Regions from separate parts of the Homo sapiens genome. Here region 2 is linked to region 1. The links come from fine-mapping of genetic effects on gene expression. A gene starts in region 1. The other region holds a variant in brackets. All regions are shown on one strand. Distances are between the middles of the regions.

Evidence for each region.
Region 2: its variant is fine-mapped to the expression of UBE2V1 in whole blood (INTERVAL, PIP above 0.99).

The regions. Positions count from the first base shown.
Region 1 is chr20:50,111,040-50,116,408 of GRCh38, forward strand. It overlaps UBE2V1 (ubiquitin conjugating enzyme E2 V1), which reads right to left and starts at 2,111. Exons shown (of 4, transcript NM_001032288.3): 1 at 2,068-2,111. The coding sequence starts at 2,089. All of the region lies in intron 5 of PEDS1-UBE2V1 (PEDS1-UBE2V1 readthrough), which reads right to left. RefSeq lists silencers at 1,639-2,178, 4,882-5,038 and enhancers at 2,349-2,458, 2,463-3,030.
Region 2 is chr20:50,073,584-50,078,952 of GRCh38, forward strand. No RefSeq gene overlaps it. Among named protein-coding and RNA genes, the nearest start is that of TRERNA1, 35 kb to the left of the region's middle. RefSeq lists an enhancer at 1-492. The variant G/A (reference allele first, on the strand shown) is at 2,335.

The sequences.
Region 1 (5,369 bases):
CTCCCTGACTTGAATGGAAGCTCCCGAAGGATACAGACTATGTCCATTTTGTTTGCTATCCACGATGGGACATAATAGGCCCTCAGTAAATATCTGTTGAATAAACAGACAAAAGAATTTTGGGAAGTCCATTTTAGGGCACCTCAAAGCCTGTCCTATGTTATCTAAACCATGCCAAGTGCTCTTGTATTCCACTAGACAGCAGCTGACATTTTATCTGATCACCATAGCCATTTATGAAGCACTCACTTTTTAACTGTCAGGGTCTGGAGAAGTTAGAACCGGGCAGCTGTTAACCCAGATTGTAGGTAGCCAACCGAGTGACTGCAAGCAGGGCTGAGCTGCAACAGCACCTTATTGCTGGCTACCACCAGCACACTGGGCCCCTTCGTTTATTACGACCCGGTAGGAGTGTTATTCTGGTGAGAAGTTTTACCCAGCAGTCTGGCCTGACTCAGAATCTCTCTTCTGGGAGTGCCTGGGGCAGCGTCATGGTAAATGAATTGACTCAGCACTGTTCCAGCTGAAACCAAAATCGAGTAAAAGGATTCATGGTCTCCGCTATTCTGCAAGAAGACCCCACTGTTTTAAACTCAAAAGGCAGCAGCTTGTGGTGGGTCACTTCAGTCAGATCCCCCACATTCAATTTCTTTTATTCCCACCCCAACCATCAGGCAAGTATGGCTCCTTGAGACCGCAGAGTAGCAACATTTATAAAGAATTCCCCTCACCCTATTTCCCATGGATCACCAATTCCTTCCCAACACTGCCGCTGCTGTGGCCTTAAATATGCCAATGATTGCTGTACTCAGGCTGGTGTCCCTGCAGCCCCACAGTGGGGAACACTGTGGCCCTGTTTGCTTCCTCCATCAGAGAGGTAACCCATTTTCACCCCATCTGAGAGAACCTCCTTGGCCAACTTCACTGCCAGGCACCTGAGGGTGCAGCCTCACCCAAGAGTTCCCATTTCATCTATTCACCTCCCTACTCCCATCAGCCAGTGGGGAACTTCTGAGCTGAACCCACATATCTGTCCCAATTATTAAAGGAGTCGATGAGAGTGAGCGTCTCCACAGAAGAGACACTTCTAGGATATGCTTCCCTCACTCAATTCAAAAAGAGGAGACTTTTCTCCTTTACAGGAAACATCTCCGGAACCCGACCTTTTCCACTCCCTCATTTCAGGGGCTTCCCTCAGTTGAATCCCCACTCCCAAAGAGACATCCTCGGGGCTCCCAATTCATCTGTTCTCCCTCATCCAATATCAGAGGCTTCCACCAACTGCCCCACTCGGACCTTGTCCCCTGAAACCTAACTTGAAGCAATCCATCTGTATCCTCGAACAGGAGACTGGTAATGATGGGGTCATTTCACTATCACCGCTATTAGGTCCCTCTGGCATCTGAATCCTTTTCCCTCCTCTCACTTATCATGCGGAGACCCCCTTCATTCTCCCCAAAAGCAGCTGCTCCAAGGCTCCTCCTTTCTAGTCAACATAGCTATTTCCTCAGCTAACCCCATCTCTAAAACTAACGCCGGAGCCGTTCCCTCAACCGATAGGGGATCCTCTCAAGTCACCCCCTCAGGATCCCGTTTCTTCCATCCAGCCTGAAGGGCTTCTCTGATGTCCCCTCCAGACATCCCAAGGCCCCTCTCAGCCGCACCCCTGGCACCCAGTATGGGACTTCCATCCGCTGTGGGGCGCCTCCTCTAGGGGACCTCTAGATCGCCCCTTAAGAGTCGCCAGCCCCGGTATCCTCAGGAGTGCCTCGGAGCTCGCTCCTCGCCCACTCCGGCTCCCCCAGACAGCACAGAGGGCCCTCACGCCTCCCGGGGGAGCCTCAGGGCCTCGCCGCGCCGCCCACAGGCCCCTCAGCCCCCCGCCCGTGCTTCCGGCCACCGCCTGCTCCTCCTCCCCCGGTCAGGCCGCGCCGGTGGCTGCCGCGGAGCCCAGCAGACAGAGGCGGCGCGGGGACCCTGGCTCCGCTGCAGGAGGCTTTGAGGGTCCCCGGCCCCCGGCCCAAGCCCATGCCCCCTCGGCCGGCCGGGCCCGGCGCCCCCGCTCACCCGAGCCCGTGGTGGCTGCCATCTTGCGTCGCTCTTGCTTGAAGGCCGGCCCCTTCTTCACCCCCCCCTTACCCGTCCCCCGGCCCTGATGCGCAGGCGCGCGCGCACGCACATACGCCGCCGCTGACGCCCGCCCCGGAGACCTGCACGACCCGTGGCCTGGAAGGCTCTTTTCCTTCCCTTTTAGAGAAAGGAAATATCTGCGTGCTCGAGGGCCCAGCAACCTGCAAGTCCCCACACATCGGGTGCGAGGGAGGTTGTGATGTGCTTAGTGAGAAGGGCAGGGGTGACTAGGCTTGGGAAGGCGCGATTGTGAAAGAAAAAGAAAATATAGCTTCAAACAAAAGCGCCGAATTCGCTTGGGGCTTTTTCCTGTCTAGTTCCTATCTAGATCCTCACCACATCTCCGCAAGGTCAGAATTAATGTGAAAAATGCAGCCGAGAGAGATCAAGCGATTTATCTAAACTCAGCTGTTAAGTGGCAGAGACAGGCAGAATTTTAACCTCCAGGTTCAAATTTTTTGAATCATCACCCTCCAGGTCAGATGATCTGGCTCCTAGGATTGATGCTCCCCGGCCAGAGAAGGCTTGGAGTGGGTGCAGCTAAATGATTTAGGGGCATTAAGGTGGCAGGGAAAGCATTTGCTAACCATCTACCCAATTCATTCATTCATTCATTCATTCATTCGTTCATTCATTCATTCAACCAAACAAACAAACATTAAGCACCTACTATGTACCAGACACTGTGCTAGGCGCTGGGGATGGATAGACATCTCTGAAGAAGCAAATCCCTGCTTTCAGGGACTTACATTCTAGTCGTAGACAGCAAGTAAATAAACAGGAAACTATAATTCTGATAGGGTAGAGATAAACCAAGACAAGAGCAGCAGAGGATGGTCAGGAAGGGCCTCCTAAGGTGGTCATATTTCAGCAGAGACCGTAACAATGAGGAGGTAGAGGGAACAGCTTGTGCAAAGGCCCTTGGGAAATATTTTTGCAAATAAATAAACCCAAGAAGGTACTCCTCCTTTATTATAAATTGTCTGAGAAGCCCTTATATGGATGTAGACACTGAGGCTGAGAGAGGTGAAGGGACTGGCTTAAGGTCACAGAGCAAAATACTGGCAGAAGGACCAGGACTCTAAACATAGAGGGACAAGGAAGCTGGAAGCCCTCACCCAGCACATCCAATTCATCACCTTTGTCTGATAGCAGTGCCTACTCTGCATCTCTCCACTCCGTTCACTTCTCCACTCAGGGCAAGCTGCCTTTATCTCCCACTTGGAAGACCCCAGCAGCTTCCATTCTCTCCCCTATGGCCCATTCTCCATATAGACCAACATCTGCTCAAAACACCCTCCAGCTAAAGCCTTCAGTGGCTCCCCATTCCCTCTGGATAAAATACAAACTTTACAAGTTGAGCGACCATAGAATTATCACCTAATGAGGACACACATCAGATTAAAAGGGGACTTATTATAATCTCACCAGGACAAGTGGAAACCAGGGCTCTCCAGGGCAAAGCAGGATGCCTGGACACCCTGTGCACCAGGCTCTGCACCCAGGGCAGGGACGAGGATGGGGTGGTCAGATTTAACGGGGCTTTCACTCAGGTCCTGACTCCGCACTTGCACAGCGCTGCAGGTGAGTGACTCCTTAAAATCTGCACCCTAGGGCAGGGCATGGTGGCTCACACCTGTAATCCCAGCACTTTGGGAGGCCGAGGTGGGCAGATCACCTGAGGTCAGGAGTTCCAGACCAGCCTGGTCAACATGGTGAAACCTCGTCTCTACTAAAAATACAAAAATTAGCGGGGCGTGGTAGCACACACCTGTAATCCCAGCTACTCGGGAGGCTGAGGCAGGAAAATCGAGCGAACCCGGGAGGCAGAGGTTGCAGTGAGCTGAGATTGCACCATTGCATTCCAGCCTGGGCAACAGAGAGAGATTCAGTCTCAAAAAAAAAAAAAAAATCTGCACCCTAGGTACCCCACTTGCCTCACCATAGCCTTGGCACAGCCTGCGCCTCTGAGACTTTCTGTACCTCTGCGGCGACACTGGCCCTTTGCAAGCCCCCTGGAACACATGCCCTCTCCCACTTCAGGGGCTTTGCCTGTGCTGTTCCCACTCTTCAGTTCTCAGATCCAGCACCATCCCCTCAGGGAAGCCTTCCTCGATTCCTCCAACCACATCAAATTCAGCTATAATTAGCTCTCAAAGTGCCAGCACTGGCTACAGGTGAAGCAACTTGACTTTTCGTGTATCACGTGATACAAGTTTGCTTTGGGGAGCACAGAAAATACTTGCCCTGGACTTGGGGTCACTGTAAAGCATCAGTAGCAAGTGGAAGCATTTGGGTTCCTAAGGTGGACTCACCTTTGCAGTGAAATTTTCTAGGTTCAAGTCTTCCTTCATCACTCAGTTTGCTTTGTGACTTCAGGTAAGACGCTTGAACCTCTCCTGGCATCAGTTTCCCCTTCTATGAGGATAGTAGTATCAACCTCATAGGATTGCTGTGGAGATAAAATGCTTTCCTAAAACCCCTTGGGCACAGGGAAGAGGAAGGGACACTAGAAGAGCTCATAATTACCAAGCCGTTACATCCAACTTTTAATCCTCACAACTCGATGCAGCAACTCCTGTGAATATCCCCATTTTTAGAGATGAGAAAACTGAGACTCAGAGCTAACAGGTGGAGAGGATGAGGATTAAAACACAAGCCTTTTATCTATGGTGCCCGTAAATGTTTACTCGCATGGATTCCTTGGCTCTTGTAGGAAACTTCTTGCAAGTAAAATTGACAATAATAATTCCCGTGCCGAGCTCATCGCAGGAAGAGGTTAGGCGGGACAGCCCGAGGCATGCTGGTTGTTGTAGTCTAGCGTTGGCGCAGTGCCTGATGGGAGTTGTAGTACGTCCCGCGCACACGCTCCCTCGAAGAGTTTCTGCCCCATTCCTGGACGTCACAGCCGGTCCCCAGAGCAGGATTCCTTCCGGCGCCTGCGCCTGATCACCGCTCTGCGCTTGAGCTGATAAACTCAGCTGATGGGATAAGAGTCTTGTTTTATCGGATTTTGGGGAAGATTAAAATGGTTAATAGAACTAGAGAATTTAGAAGAGGGCTTGGCACTAAGTGCAATATAAGTATTAGCTGCTATTATTACCTAATCCTCAATGAACCTTGCAAAGTAGCTGTTACCATTTCCATTTGTGAGATGAGAAAACTGAGACTTAGAGGAGTTAGATGGCTTTTCCAAGGTCACACAACAAGGAAGGAGTAAAATCAGTTTTGGAATCCAG
Region 2 (5,369 bases), 37 kb before region 1:
CCAGTCCATCTGTTGCCCCCTGACCCAGCCACCCAGCTTCCCTGCATGCAGGGCAGAGGGAACAGGAGGCCCCACGGGGCCACTGGGACCCCTCCCTTGTCACTGCCAGTGGCCTCACAGGTCCATGTGACCCACCAAGAGAGGAAGGCCAGGCCCAGCCCTGAGGAGTGATTCATTCATTCAGTTTACACAGTCAGACTTTGTGCTGGACACTGTTTGTTGTTGTTGTTGTTTTGTTCTTTGAGACAGGGTCTCACTCTGTCACCCAGGCTGGAGTGCAATGGTGTGATCTTGGCTCCATGCAACCTCCGCCTCCCGAGTTCAAGTGATTCTCCTGCCTCAGCCTCCGGAGTAGCTGGTATTACAGGTGTGCACCACCACGCCTGGCTAATTTTTGTATTTTTAGTAGAGACGGGGTTTCACTATGTTGGCCAGGCTGGTCATGAACTCCTGGCTTCAGTGATCCTCCCACCTCACCTCCCAAAGTGTTGGGATTACGGACTTAAGCCACCGTGCCCGGCCTAGACACCATTTTTTATTTTATTTACTTATTTATTTATTATTATTATTATTATTATTATTTTGAGACAGAGTTTTGCTCTTGTCTCCCAGGCTGGAGTGCAATGGCGCGATCTCGGTTCACTGCAACATCCGCCTCCTGTGTCCAAGTCATTCTCCTGCCTCAGCCTCCTGAGTAGCTGGGATTACAGGCACCTACCACCACACCCAGCTAATTTTTTGTATTTTTAGTAGAGACAGGGTTTCACCATGATGATCAGGCTGGTCTTGAACTCCTGACCTCAAGTGATGCACCCGCCTCTGCCTCCCAAAGTGCTGGGATTATAGGCGTAAGCCACCACGCCAGGCCTATTATTATTATATTTTGAGACAGAGTCTGGCTCTGTCACGCAGGCTGGTACAATGGCTTGATCTTGGCTCACTGCAACCTCCGCTACCCAGGTTCAAGTGATTCTCCTGTCTCAGCCTCCCGAGTTGCTGGGATTACAAGCACGTGCCACTACGCCCAGCTAATTTTTGTATTGTTAGTAGAGATGGGGTTTCACCATGTTGGCCAGGCTGGTCTCGAACTCCTGATCTCAGGTGATCCACCCACCTTGGCCTCCCAAAATGCTGGGATTACAGGCGTGAGCCACTGTGCCCAGCCTTCAACACTATTTTTAACACTGGGTTCATGGCAGTGAAGAAGCCAGATGAGGCGCCCACCTGCAAGAGGGACAAAGGAATAACTACTGCAATGAATGAGATAGTTAAAATACACTGGGCATGGGAGTCCAAGGCGGGTGGATCATTTGAGGTCAGGAGTTCGAGACCAGCCTGGCCAACATGGTGAAACCCCGTCTACCAAAAATACAAAAATTAGCCGGGCGTGGTGGTGCACGCCTGTAATCCCCAGCTACTCGGTAGGCTGATGCAGGAGAATCGCTTGAACCAGGGATGCAGAAGCTGCAGTGAGCTGGGATCGCAGCACTGCACTCCAGCCTGGGTGACAGAGTGAGATTCTATCTAAAAAAAGAAAAGAAAAAGAAAAAAAAAAGAGGCCAGCTGCAGTGGTTCACGTCTGTCATCCCAGCACTTTAGGAGTCCAAGGCAGGCGGATCGCCTGAGTTCAGGAATTCGAGACCAGTCTGACCAACATGATGAAACTCCATCTCTACTAAAAATACAAAAATTAGCCGGGCATGGTGGCAGGCGCCTGTAATCCCAGCTACTCGGGAGGCTGAGGCAGGAGAATCACTTGAACCCAGGAGGCGTAGGTTGCAGTGAGCCAGGATAGTGCCATTGCACTCCAGTCTGGGCAACAGAGTGAGACTCTGTCTCAAAAATAAAATAAATAAAATAAAATAATAAAATAAAATAAAATATAAAATAAATAAATAAATTAATTAATTAAAATAAATAAAATAAAATAAAATATGCCTGTATCCTTGGATGGAGAAACCTGCTCCTAGAACTGTGTTCTACAGAGGTATGCAAATGCACACACATGCCCTGAGGCCAGCGGGCAGCAGAGCAGCAGAGACCACCTCAGGCCCAGCAGTCCAGGCCTGGCCACCGTGGTGGTGGCCCTTCATGTGCTGGGTGTGCTGCGCTTAACTACGGAGCGGATCCCCAAGGCTGCTCTGCAGGGCACTGGGAAGAATATCCCGGGGAGGAGCTAAGTGGAGATCACATTCCCATTTGCGTAAAAAAGTGGGGGAAGTGCATGAGGGGAGGGGGAAAGAATGCGGAGTGGTGCTGGCTGCACTTGCGTTTGCTCGCGTGCTGCCTGTGCCATCTCAGAGGCTCACACACTGGTGCTTGCCTTGGGAGAAC[G/A]GGGTCAGAGGTGAGACTTTGCCCTGCACTCTATTCCCTTTATTTTCTTTTTGAGACGGAGTCTCACTGTGTCACCCAGGCTGGAGTGCGGTGGTGCAAGCCCAGTTCACTGCAGCCTCCATCTCCCAGGTTCAAGCGATTCTCCTGCCTCAGCCTCCCGAGTAGCTGGGATTACAGGCGTCTGCCACCATGCCTGGCTAATTTTTGTATTTTTAGTAGAGACGGAGTTTCATCATATTGGTCAGACTGGTCTCGAACTCCTGAACTCAGGTGATCTGCCCGCCTCGGCCTCCTAAAGTGCTGGGATGACAGACGTGAACCACTGCACCCGGCCTCTTTTTTTGTTTGTTTTTCTTTTCTTTGTTTAGACAGAATCTCACTCTGTCACCCAGGCTGGAGTGCAGTGGTGTGATCCCAGCTCACTGCAGCTTCTGCATCCCTGGTTCAAGCAATTCTCCTGCCTCAGCCTACCGAGTAGCTGGGATTACAGGCGTGCACCACCATGCCCGGCTAATTTTTATATTTTTGGTAGACGGGGTTTCACCATGTTGCCCAGCCTGGTCTCAAACTTGTTGGCTCAACGGATCTGCCAGCCTTGGCCTCCGAAAGTGCTAAGATTATAGGCATGAGCCACTGCCTCTGGCCAACTCTGTTAATTGACACATAAATGTAGGGAGACTTCACGTACAAATCTGCCTTCACAGCTTCCTTGGAAAATCAGAAAGATCTGGCATTCACTCAGCCCATGTGCCCAGTACTTAGTAACACCTTCACACTCACCTGTCCCCACCCAGCTGCATAACATCAGACACATATCAGAACCCCAAGGATGTGGCCCGTGTCTTCTTCTCACAGTGACAGGGCCACCAGCAGCAATGAGGTGGCTCTAGCCTAAGGTCTCCTCTCTCCCAAGGTCACCTTGGCCCGTGTGTGACAGCTGACTGCATCTAGCAGGTGACCTTGCCCAGGTCTCACAAGGAAGTCTTTGAGGTTGATCTGTTATCTTCTGGAGCTCAGAGCTCTGTACAATCCACCCACCCCAGCAGCTTGTTTCTTGCAAACTGGAAAGAATGAAGCTTTCACAAGCTGCCTTTTTTTTTTTTTTTTTTTGAGACTGAGTTTCACTCTTGTTGCCCAGACTAGAGTACAATGGCGTGATCTCGGCTCGCCACAACCTCCACCTCCCAGGTTCAAGTGATTCTCCTGCCTCAGCCTCCTGAGTAGCTGGGATTACAGGCATGTGCCACCACACCCAGCTAATTTTGTATTTTTAGTAGAGATGGGATTTCTCCGTGTTGGTCAGGCTGGTCTCAAACTCCCGACCTCAGGTGATCTGCCTGCCTTGGCCTCCCAAAGTGCTGGGATTACAGGCGTGAGCCACTGAGCCCAGCCAAGCTGCCTCTTCTTAAAGGAATTTCCTCCTCTGCCAAGTAAGGAAATCCCTAATGCTGTATCTTGAACTTTGTCATGAGGCTCCGTGATGAAGGAGTGACGTCAAGAAGGGACAGGCCAAGAGAGGGAATGTGACTGTCCCTGGGCTCCCTAAGGTTCTCTGAGGGGAGGTGCAAGAGGCCAGGCAGGGGCCGGGTGCGGTGGCTCATGCCTGCAATCCCAGCACTTTGGGAGGCCGAGGCGGGCGGATCACCTAAGGTTGGGAGTTCGAGACCAGCCTGACCAACATGGAGAAACCCCGTCTCTAATAAAAATACAAAATTAGCCAGGCATGGTGGTGCATGCCTGTAATCTCAGCTACTCGGGAGGCTGAGGCAGGAGAATATCTTGAACCCAGGACGCAGAGGTTGCAGTGAGCCGAGATCATGCCATTGTACTCCAGCCTGGGCAACAAGATTGAAACTCCGTCTAAAAAAAAAGGCCAAGCAGGGATCCACAGGCAGGGTGGAAAGGGGCACAGAGGCAGGGGCCGCTCCGTTTATGTGACGCCATCCACATCGTTATGCAACACCACAGCTAAAGGTGCAGTACAGCCAACAGTGCTCCCACCCAGAGGGCCGGAGAACTTTCTCCAGTGGAGATGCAGTCCAAGGAACTGGCTCTTGCCCCAAGACCAGAGTCAGTCAGAGATCCAGGGCAGTGGGGCCCCATGGCTGGCTTGCTGTTGGTCAGCCAGAAGGGGTGCTTTCTACACCTGCTGTCTCCCCGACCTTTGTCAGGTAACGACAGATGTTTCCCCACACCACAAGTTTCCACACAGTGAAAATTACCAGTGGATGCATCCCCTCCGGTACACAAACCTGGCAGGGGCTGGAGACCAGAGGTGTGACCCAGGGAAACCACCTGGCAAAAGTGGCAACATCTGGCCAGGCGCGGTGGCTCACGGCACTTTGGGAGGCTGAGGGGGGCAGATCATCTGAGGTCAGGAGTTCAAGACCAGCCTGGCCAACATGGTAAAACCCTGTCTCTACTAAAAATACAAAAAATTAGTTTGGCGTGGTGGCGCATGCCTGTAGTCCCAGCTACTCAGAAAGCTGAGGCAGAATTGCTTGAATCCAAGAGGTGGAGGTTGCAGTGAGCCAAGACCACTCCACTGCACTCCAACTTGGGCGACAGAGAGAGATTCCGTCTCGGAAAAAAAACAAAAACAAAAACGTGGCAACATCTGAACCTCAGACAAGCACTTCCTGTGTGCCCTAGGCTTAAACTCTGTCCATAAACTTTAGACCATCTGTAAACCCACCACCAAGGAAGAGCAAATTACACAAACGTGGGACACAGTGCCCACAAGATCACAGATCCAAACAACTGTCTCAGAGGGTTTTGAGTGTTGTTTCACAGGCCTTAAGCCCAGGTCCACCCAGCCCGCATCCCCTCTGGTATATAAACCTGGCAGGGGCTGGGGACCGGAGGTGTGACCCAGGGAAGCCAGGTAAAGTGCACACTCTAGGATTTGAGACAGGATTTGTTTTCCTCTTGGGGGTAACTCAGCACAGAAGAGGCCACCTTTAGATTTAACCACGAATTTGTTCTGGGGTTTTCCAGCAGCATTTTATTATTTATTTATTTTTTGAGACGGAGTC